Regions from separate parts of the Homo sapiens genome. Here all the other regions are linked to region 3. Evidence: fine-mapped expression QTL. A gene starts in region 3. Each other region holds a variant in brackets. All regions are shown on one strand. Distances are from middle to middle.

Evidence for each region. PIP is the estimated chance that this variant, and not a neighbour inherited with it, causes the effect.
Region 1: its variant is the best candidate, but not a certain one, in a credible set for the expression of ELAPOR1 in whole blood (TOPMed, PIP 0.60).
Region 2: its variant is the best candidate, but not a certain one, in a credible set for the expression of ELAPOR1 in whole blood (INTERVAL, PIP 0.52).

The regions. Positions count from the first base shown.
Region 1 is chr1:109,184,132-109,186,892 of GRCh38, forward strand. ELAPOR1 (endosome-lysosome associated apoptosis and autophagy regulator 1) reads left to right here. Exons shown (of 22, transcript NM_020775.5): 8 at 914-1,002. Among named protein-coding and RNA genes, the nearest start is that of SARS1, 28 kb to the right of the region's middle. The variant T/C (reference allele first, on the strand shown) is at 1,326.
Region 2 is chr1:108,984,557-108,987,317 of GRCh38, forward strand. It overlaps WDR47 (WD repeat domain 47), which reads right to left. Exons shown (of 15, transcript NM_001142551.2): 10 at 1,967-2,124. It also overlaps the pseudogene LOC107985160. Among named protein-coding and RNA genes, the nearest start is that of CLCC1, 22 kb to the left of the region's middle. The variant T/A (reference allele first, on the strand shown) is at 1,743.
Region 3 is chr1:109,112,588-109,115,348 of GRCh38, forward strand. It overlaps ELAPOR1 (endosome-lysosome associated apoptosis and autophagy regulator 1), which reads left to right and starts at 1,528. Exons shown (of 22, transcript NM_020775.5): 1 at 1,528-1,749. The coding sequence starts at 1,597. It overlaps CFAP276 (cilia and flagella associated protein 276), which reads right to left and starts at 160. Exons shown (of 5, transcript NM_001245025.3): 1 at 12-160. The coding sequence starts at 92. RefSeq lists a silencer at 1,280-1,349.

The sequences.
Region 1 (2,761 bases), 72 kb after region 3:
GAGGCCGAGGAGGGCAGATCACCTGAAGTCAGGAGTTCGAGACCAGCCTGACCAACATGGAGAAACTCCGTCTCTACTAAAAATACAAAATTAGCCAGGCATGGTGACTCATGCCTGTAATTCCAGCTACTCAAGAAGCTGAGGCAGGAGAATCACTTGAACCTGGGAGGCGGAGGTTGCAGTGAGCCAAGATCGTGCCACTGCACTCCAGCCTGGGCAACAAGAGTGAAACTCCATCTCAATAATAATAATAATAAAGATAGTGTTGGGATGCTTGGGTTGAGGCAAGTGGGAAGAACCTTATGTGTTAGGTGGAGTCCAAGGAAATTACAAACCTGGTTTGTGTAGAATGATTGCATGAAGAAAAGGAAATTTCCAAGGTGGAAGGCCTTCATTCTAGGCATATATTAGAACATTCATAGAAAGGCTTGGAATGAGTATGAAAGCAAAATCATGTTTTACTTCAACACTTCAGGAGTAGAAAAACCACACCCAGAGTCAAGACACTAAGGCACCTGGAAGATGGTGAACTCTCTGAACCTCCCCAGGTTTCAGGGAACTTAGGTTGGCAGTGGTTAACCTGCAAGAAGCTGTTTCCGTCTACCCTCCTTGCTGGTCCTTTGGCCAGGCCACTTCTCCCTCCCTTGCCCCATGGGGCGGGGGACGGGAAGCGGCAAACAGTGGTTTCTCATCAGCACCTGGAACAGGTGCAAAGGGAAGCTTGAGCAGGGTTGGGGAACTGGAAATGACACTATTGAGACAAGGGGAAGGGTGAGTGTGCAGGATTTTCTACTTCCGGCAATATTTGTGTGGCAATGCACCCAGGGACTTGGGAGTCACAGGGCCATGAAGAGGCCAGGAGCTCAGCTTTCTTATGTAACTCCAAATATTTCTTCTTGCTTTGGCAATTTAGAGAAAGGATCTTCTTCCTGTAACGTGCGCCCAGCTTGCACAGACAAAGATTATTTCTACACACACACGGCCTGCGATGCCAACGGAGAGGTGGGTAGTACAGTCTTGGAGCCCCTTAGCCCCAGATGGACTGTCTCCCACTCCCTGAGGTTTGCCACCATTTGGAACTTCAGCAGTCAATGACATTGGCACTAGTTAAAACCCCACAGACCTTTGAGGTGACCCTAGGGCTAGGTGGGGTGGGGGGCAAAACGAGACCTCTTCATTCATTTTCCGGTCAGAAACTGTTTTTGCAGCGTTTGTTTCACTGTTTATGCACATATGTTCTGTTTCAAAAACCCACTTCATTCTCTCTTGCTTGGTTTCTTCTATTTGCCGAGCCACTCCGGCAGAGCCTGCCTGTCCGTACACAA[T/C]GTCCTCCCGGGGCTCTTCAGGCTCACCCCCTCGGCACTGTTTTGTGGGCTGGCACGGGGAATGGATTCCTGCCTATGGTCTGACTTGTTCCGTTTCTGCTGCTTCTCTTTCCTCCAGGCTTTCTGCTTCAGAAAAGAACTTTCCCTCCTAGTCTACACTGTCACTGAGTCAACAAGCATTTTTTGAGGCTGACTGATATGTCAGGCCTGGCACTATAGGCTGGGGAGTCAGAGACGACTGAAACAAGCTCCTGCCCCCAGGGAGCTCACAGTCCTGTATGAGAGGCTGGAGAGAGGAGAAAAACGGGCCCAGTCAAGGCAACCAGAGGGATGTGCAGGGAACTGGGGGAGCCCAGAAGAGAAGCGACCAGGACTTGGGGTGGGGGCAGCAGAGAAAGCCTCTCAGAGGAGGCCATTTGTTCAACAGTCAACAAATATTTATCGAGGAGCGACTCTGTGCCAGGCACGGTGCTAGGTGCTAGGCATGCATCACTTAACAAAACTGAGGGAACATCTAGCCCTTATGGAGCTTAACTCTTGTTGGGGAGGGAGTGGAGAGAGAGATAATAGACAACAAATGGGTATATAATATAGCAAATGGTAGTAAGTGGTAGGAAGGAAAAAAAAAAACCAGGATTAGGAGAGAGAGAATGAAGGAGGGTGGTGCCACTATTTTAGAAGGGTAGGGATGTCCTCTCAGGAGGTGACATTTGAGCAGAGACCTGAAGGAGATGAGGGAGGAGCCGTGGAGCTTTCCAGGCAGCAGACACAGCAGGAGAGGAGGCGGCAGCTGGGCCAGGTGGGTGGAGAAACAGTGTAAGTGAGCAGGGAAGGGCTTGAGGTGCACGGAGAAGGATCTGGCTGAGCTGTCTGTATCCCTAAGCTAGAGATTCTCAAGAGGATAGAACTAGGAGTTGGGCATTCTGCACTCAGCACTAAGCATGATGCTTGGCTCTTAGGGAGCATAAACATTTGCTGGCTGGGCGGCTGACTGAATTCTCCCTTTCCTAACTAAGCATGGGTTAAAGTCTGGTCCTTAACAATGAATATTTTGCACAGTCATCTCTTACCAACACCACCTCCCCCACGTATTTGGGGCATCATCCCCTTCTCCAGCAGCCAAGAGAGAATGGCTGTGTCTTGTCAGTTGCACCTTAGACTCAGTTCTGTGGTGTCTGGTATTCTGTATGACCTTGTGAACATTTATTTTCATTTTCTTGGTCTCAGCCAACTCACTAATAAAAGGCAGACAATTAATCCTGCTGCTCTTCTCCCTCCTGTTCATAACATGTGACTGAATGTGGCTGTCTTTCCTCCCTTCTGCCCCATTCTCTTCCCTCCCTGGGCTCACGCCAAGGCCTTCTGGGTCAGTACCGTGCTTGCTGCCTGAAAGCCCGGGTGTCTGCCTTGGCCTGACCACTGCCGGGGCCTTTAGA
Region 2 (2,761 bases), 130 kb before region 3:
GACAAATCTCTAATACCTAAAAAGTGTTTAATATTGATCTAGGCAGGGTGTGATGGCTCAGGCCTGTAATCCCAGCACTTTGGGAGGCCGAGGAGGGCGGATCAAGAGGTCAGGAAATCAAGACCATCCTGGCCAACATGGTGAAACCCCGTCGCTACTAAAAATACAAAAATCAGCTAGGCATCGTGGTGCATGCCTGTAGTCCCAGCTACTCAGGAGGCTGAAGCAGGAGAATCACTTGAACCCAGGAGGTGGAGGTTACAGTGAGCTGAGGTCGTGCCAGTGCACTCCAGCCTGGCGACAGAGTGAGACTCTGTCTCAAAACAAAAACAAAAAAAACCCAAAAAACTGATCTAGAGAACAGACCAGATAAAAAGATTTTCTTTTCAGCTGCACAACCAATTATCACCAAGTCCCACCGATTCCTTCCTTAAATGGATTATACCTCTCAAATCCACCCACTTTGCTCCACCTCCACTGCCATCACATTACCATCAAATACAAACAGCTTCCTCCCTCTCTCCCAGTGTCTCCTCTTATTGCCATCCAATCACAGGCAGAGTCATCATCTCAAAATACATTTACACTTGATCTGCTACTTTCAGTGGTGTCCCACTGCACTCAGCATGAAATATAAAATGGCTAGAAAGCTCTGCCTAATTTAGTTCATGTCTATCTCTGCGGCCTTATCAAACTCAAGCTCATAATTTTCCAACCAATCTGAATTTATTTCAGTTCCTAAAAAAAGCCAAGCTCTTTCTCACCTCACGTTCCCTCTATATTATTCTCTTCTCCCTTCTCTTTACATAGCTAGGTTACTCCTCCTTAGATCTCAACTTTAGTGCCTCTTCCTCAAAGAAGTCTTTCTCTGACTCGCCAGTTTGCACCCTACTCCATCCCCATTTTATTCTCACAGCACGTTGTAATCTTTCTTCATAACATTTACCAAAATGTATATTTGTGTTCATTTGCATTATATCCATCTTCCCCACTAAACAAGAAGTTCCATGAAGCCAATAAACATGTTTGTTTTACACACAACTATAGTACCTAGCACATAGGAGCCCAAAATATATATTTGCTAAATAAATGTATTTATTTTCAAATCAGTTTCTTCACAGCCTATGAAACATCTGTGTCTGTATAAGAAATACAAAAGATGAGAAACAGTTACCTTAAGTTCAAGTTAACCCTAAACATATAAGTCTTTGGTTCTACCTCCATAATTATTGCTATTTCTCACTCCCTTATAGAGAATTTTGCCATTCTTTCTTAAGTATTTCGACTTAAATAATGCAGTGAGCACCAGTAAATTATAATACTATCAATTAACATGGACCTTATTATATTCCCTTTCCCAATCATTAAATGCTACCACAGTCCAAAAGCCTAAATTATTGGTTTCAGACATAGAGATAGCAAAAAAAAAAAAAAAATGCAAATAAATGAAAAATCCCACCCCTGTTTCTCAAACTAGGGTTATAATTAAAAAGTCTTAAGAGGTGTAAAAGAGTAAGAGTTATATGTAAATTACATACATAATTTATAAATAGGTGTGTATGAATAGGAAAAAACACAGTATACGTAGGGTTCAGTACCAGCCAAGGTTTCAGGAATCCACTGGGGTTCTTAAATGTATCCCTTGCAAATAAGGGGGGTCTACTATATAAAGACTTTTCAGATAAAAAACAAAATACAAAAGCCATGGAAATAAAGAAGTCTAAAGCCATAAATGAGCAATG[T/A]TGTAATCAAAAACATTTTATGAAAAAATTATGAAGTTAATGACTTAAGTATATTTCCTAAGCACTGAAAGTAAAAACAGTTATTTTATAACAGAAAATAAAGTTTAATCGAAGGAAAGAAAGTAAGATTTGAAACACTACTGAATGGCAATTCTGAAAAAGGAACCTATACGGCTAAATTAAAAACTAAGGTAAGAATGGCAGCACAAATCATTGATCCTTACCTTGGATCAATTACATCTGGATAGGCACATACTCTCAGAGTTTTTGAATTTGAACCAACAGCATATAAACCTCCAGCTGGATGAAAAGCCACTGCTCTAACAGCTTGTGTGTCTTCTAGGATATTAATACAAACAAACTGCTTTTTTGATTTGTCATCCTATGGAAAGAATGAATATTAGTTATCCTATTAAAAAAATGAATTTGAAAGAATTCATCTTTCTCCCATTTTAAATTCATTTGAACTTTATTATTCTTGTTGGATCATGTTAGGTTTACTGCCAATAACCATATATTCTTTTCTCTATGTTTTTCTTACTTTATTAAATCTTACTAATATCCTTTAAGAGGCAAACACACAGACAAGTAGGCTACAGTGAAGAAATCTTATTTTGGAGAGTTAAGAAACCACTAAGATACTTCCAGGTATTATCATCAGTGATGCTTCTTATCTTTACTCTGGGACACCAGGTAATATTAAACCCCTACAGCTACCACAAATGCAGCAAATCTTTGAATCCTTTTAATAATGCACCATCAGAGGAAACATTGTTTGCAAAGTCACCCATGTTTCTCTAAGCTTCATTACAGCCCCATAGATCCCTTAGCCCTCCTGCAGCCAGCTTCTCCTGGATAGTTTCTAATGGTGTTTCTTCTATCTTCCATTGTTTATAATCTGGAAATTCCATTTTACTATGTTCATGTTAACGTCCATGTCCATGGGCCATTTCTGTATTCTTTAGATGATTCTTTTAAAGTGCAGCATTATTGCTTTCCTTTTTTAAAAAGTTTTAATT
Region 3 (2,761 bases):
AACCACAGTACCTTGGAAGCCCGCAGTTCTCCTAAGTAGGAATCATCGTTATCTAATGTAGGCTGCTGGAAAGGGTCCCGGGTGGGAGGCATGGCTAAATGCCTAACTCTTTTAAGAGGGATGGGAGGCCCGCTCAGCCGCAGCACAGCCTCACTGGCATAAGATCCCGGGTCCCAATTGTTTGGAGCGCTGGTTTCGGTTGCCAGGCAACTGCCCAGCCATCTATGACAGAGGAATTCCCTCAGAGGAGGGCGCCACCTGGCGGCTGACCACGGGAGGCCCCTGGGGAGGAAGCTCCGGGGACTGCAGAGGGAACGTTCCGCTGAGCGGGCCCGAGACTTGGAATTGCACTCCTGAGCCTCGGCGGAAAAGTGCTGGCTGCTCACCATCAGGACTTCTGCAAAAGACTTCAGTTGAGGAAAGAAGTCCTGAAAGATGACCCAGAAATTTCCTTCTCCCTCGCACCTAACAAAAGGCTTTCAAAGCCATGAGAGAATGAGGATGTCAAGAGACCAAAGAGGGCCGGGCGCGGTGGTTCACGCCTGTAATCTCAGCACTTTGGGAAGCGGAGGCGGGCGGATCGCTTAAGCCCAAGAGTTCGAGACCAGTCTGGGCAACATGGCGAAACCCCGTCTCTACAAAAAGTAGGAAAAAAATTAGCTGGGCTTGGTGGCACGCGCCCGTAGTCCCAGCTACTCGGGAGGCTAATCCAGGAGAATCTCTTGAACCCGGAAGGCGGAGGTTGCAGTTAGCCGAGATCGCGCCACTGCACTCCAGTGTGGGCGAGAGAGTGAGACCCTGTCTCAGAGAGAGAGAGAGAGAGAGAGAAAGAGAGAGAGAGAGAGAGAGAGAGAGAGAGAGAGAGAGAGAGAGAGAGAGAGGCCCACGTGCGGCGCTTGGGAAATTGCGGCTAAGGCAAACTCCTCGCTTAAACTCGGATCAACTACAGTGTCAGGGCTTCTCTTCTAGCCGGTTGTAAAAGCACGGATGGATTTGGCGGGATGTAAGATCTCCAGGAGTGGCCTTCGTAGGAGGGAACACGTACTGGGGCCTCTTCCAGGCGACGACGTCTGGAGGGTGATCTCTCCATCTTCTTTCTCTCGGTTCACACGCCACGTGTGCAACATCGGAGATGCTCATAAAATAACCCCTGGCCCGAAAGGGCAGTAGAAAACGGAAATTTGTTGGCTGGCTTGGAGGATGCTTCCACTGTGTTCTTCACACGAGCCCCGGGCCTGCCTGTTGGGCCGGTTGCGCACCCCGGGCGCGCGCTCTCCCGCGCCCACGCCGCGCGCACCAGCGGCGGCGGCTGCCATGGCGACCCGCAGGTGAGCTGCAGAGGCGCGCGTGGTCCCTGCCCCACCCGCGCGGAGCCAGAGAGGAGGCGGTTGTCAAGGCGACGTGGGTAGGAGGAGAGGACAGAGGGAGGAGGAAGGATGGGCGGTGTTGGCGTAGCCGCAGGGAGGTGACTGAAGCGAGCCTGGCCTCTTGCATCCTCCGCCTGTGTACCTCCCTCCCCTTTTTTTCCGCCTTCTGCCAGCAGAAGCAGCAGCCGCAGCACCTGAGCCGCTACTGCCGCTCACTCAGGACAACGCTATGGCTGAGCCTGGGCACAGCCACCATCTCTCCGCCAGAGTCAGGGGAAGAACTGAGAGGCGCATACCCCGGCTGTGGCGGCTGCTGCTCTGGGCTGGGACCGCCTTCCAGGTGACCCAGGGAACGGGACCGGAGCTTCATGCCTGCAAAGAGGTACTGCCGCCCCCCTACCCGATCCCGCTTTGGTCACAAAAGTCTTGGATCCAGGCGGAGACCTTGGGGACCCAGGCGCAGAGAGTTTCAGACGCCACGGAGTTTAGATTTCTTTGGGGATGAGGCGTGGGGGGAGGGAAGAGGAGCCAGTCTGGCGTCATGAGGAGGCCAGCACATTGGAGGACTCACGGATAGATCATCCTCACAGATTGGGATGCTGAGCTCAGCGAGAAAGGTCCCAGCCCCAAGAAGGGGAGCTACCTGGGTACCTGAACTCAGAATGAGGGAGGCAGACGAGTTATTTTCCAGTTAGGATGAACTCACCTTAAAAGTGGTTGACAAGAAAAGATTATGCACAGAGAAGCAAAATAGGAAGAGGAAAGAAGAGTAGTGGGAGAGGAAAGGAGTTAGGAAGGCCAGAAAAAAGTATCAGAGCGAAGTGGTTTTATCATGGCTACACAAAACGGAGTGTGAAGGTGGGAGATGTGCGAGAGGGATGATAGGATTCCAGCTCTCTAGTTCCTTGTTTATTAAACATCGGTTAGTGCAGACTGTAAAATGTGTCTCCTCCTTATAGCTTGGCCTCCCCGCAGCGTACTATGTTTAGTGTACCTGACAGTACACGACTCACCTTTTTGCAGATTTTGAGTTCTTCAATATCTTGTGTTCTGCCAACCTCTAGTCTCCTTCTCTGACTTAACATATGTCAAAGTCTTTTTCAAGGTATTTCCAATATGTTGGAAGCAGAATTCAGACAATAGGTAGTCAATCTCTTATAACCAAAAATAGCTTTTGAAAAGTCATCTTGGAGGAACATAAAAGGGCACTAGCAGCAACAAAACTAAGTCATTTCTATGTTATTGAAATAACAATATTTGGTTGTGCTCTGAGCAACTTTTTTAGAAACCATATGGCAGAGGCAACAATAAGATATTTACAAGAACTACGTTGGGGAAGGCAAAATAAAAGTTCTGTTATTTCTGTGAAATGTGAAGGACTTCATAAAAAGTCA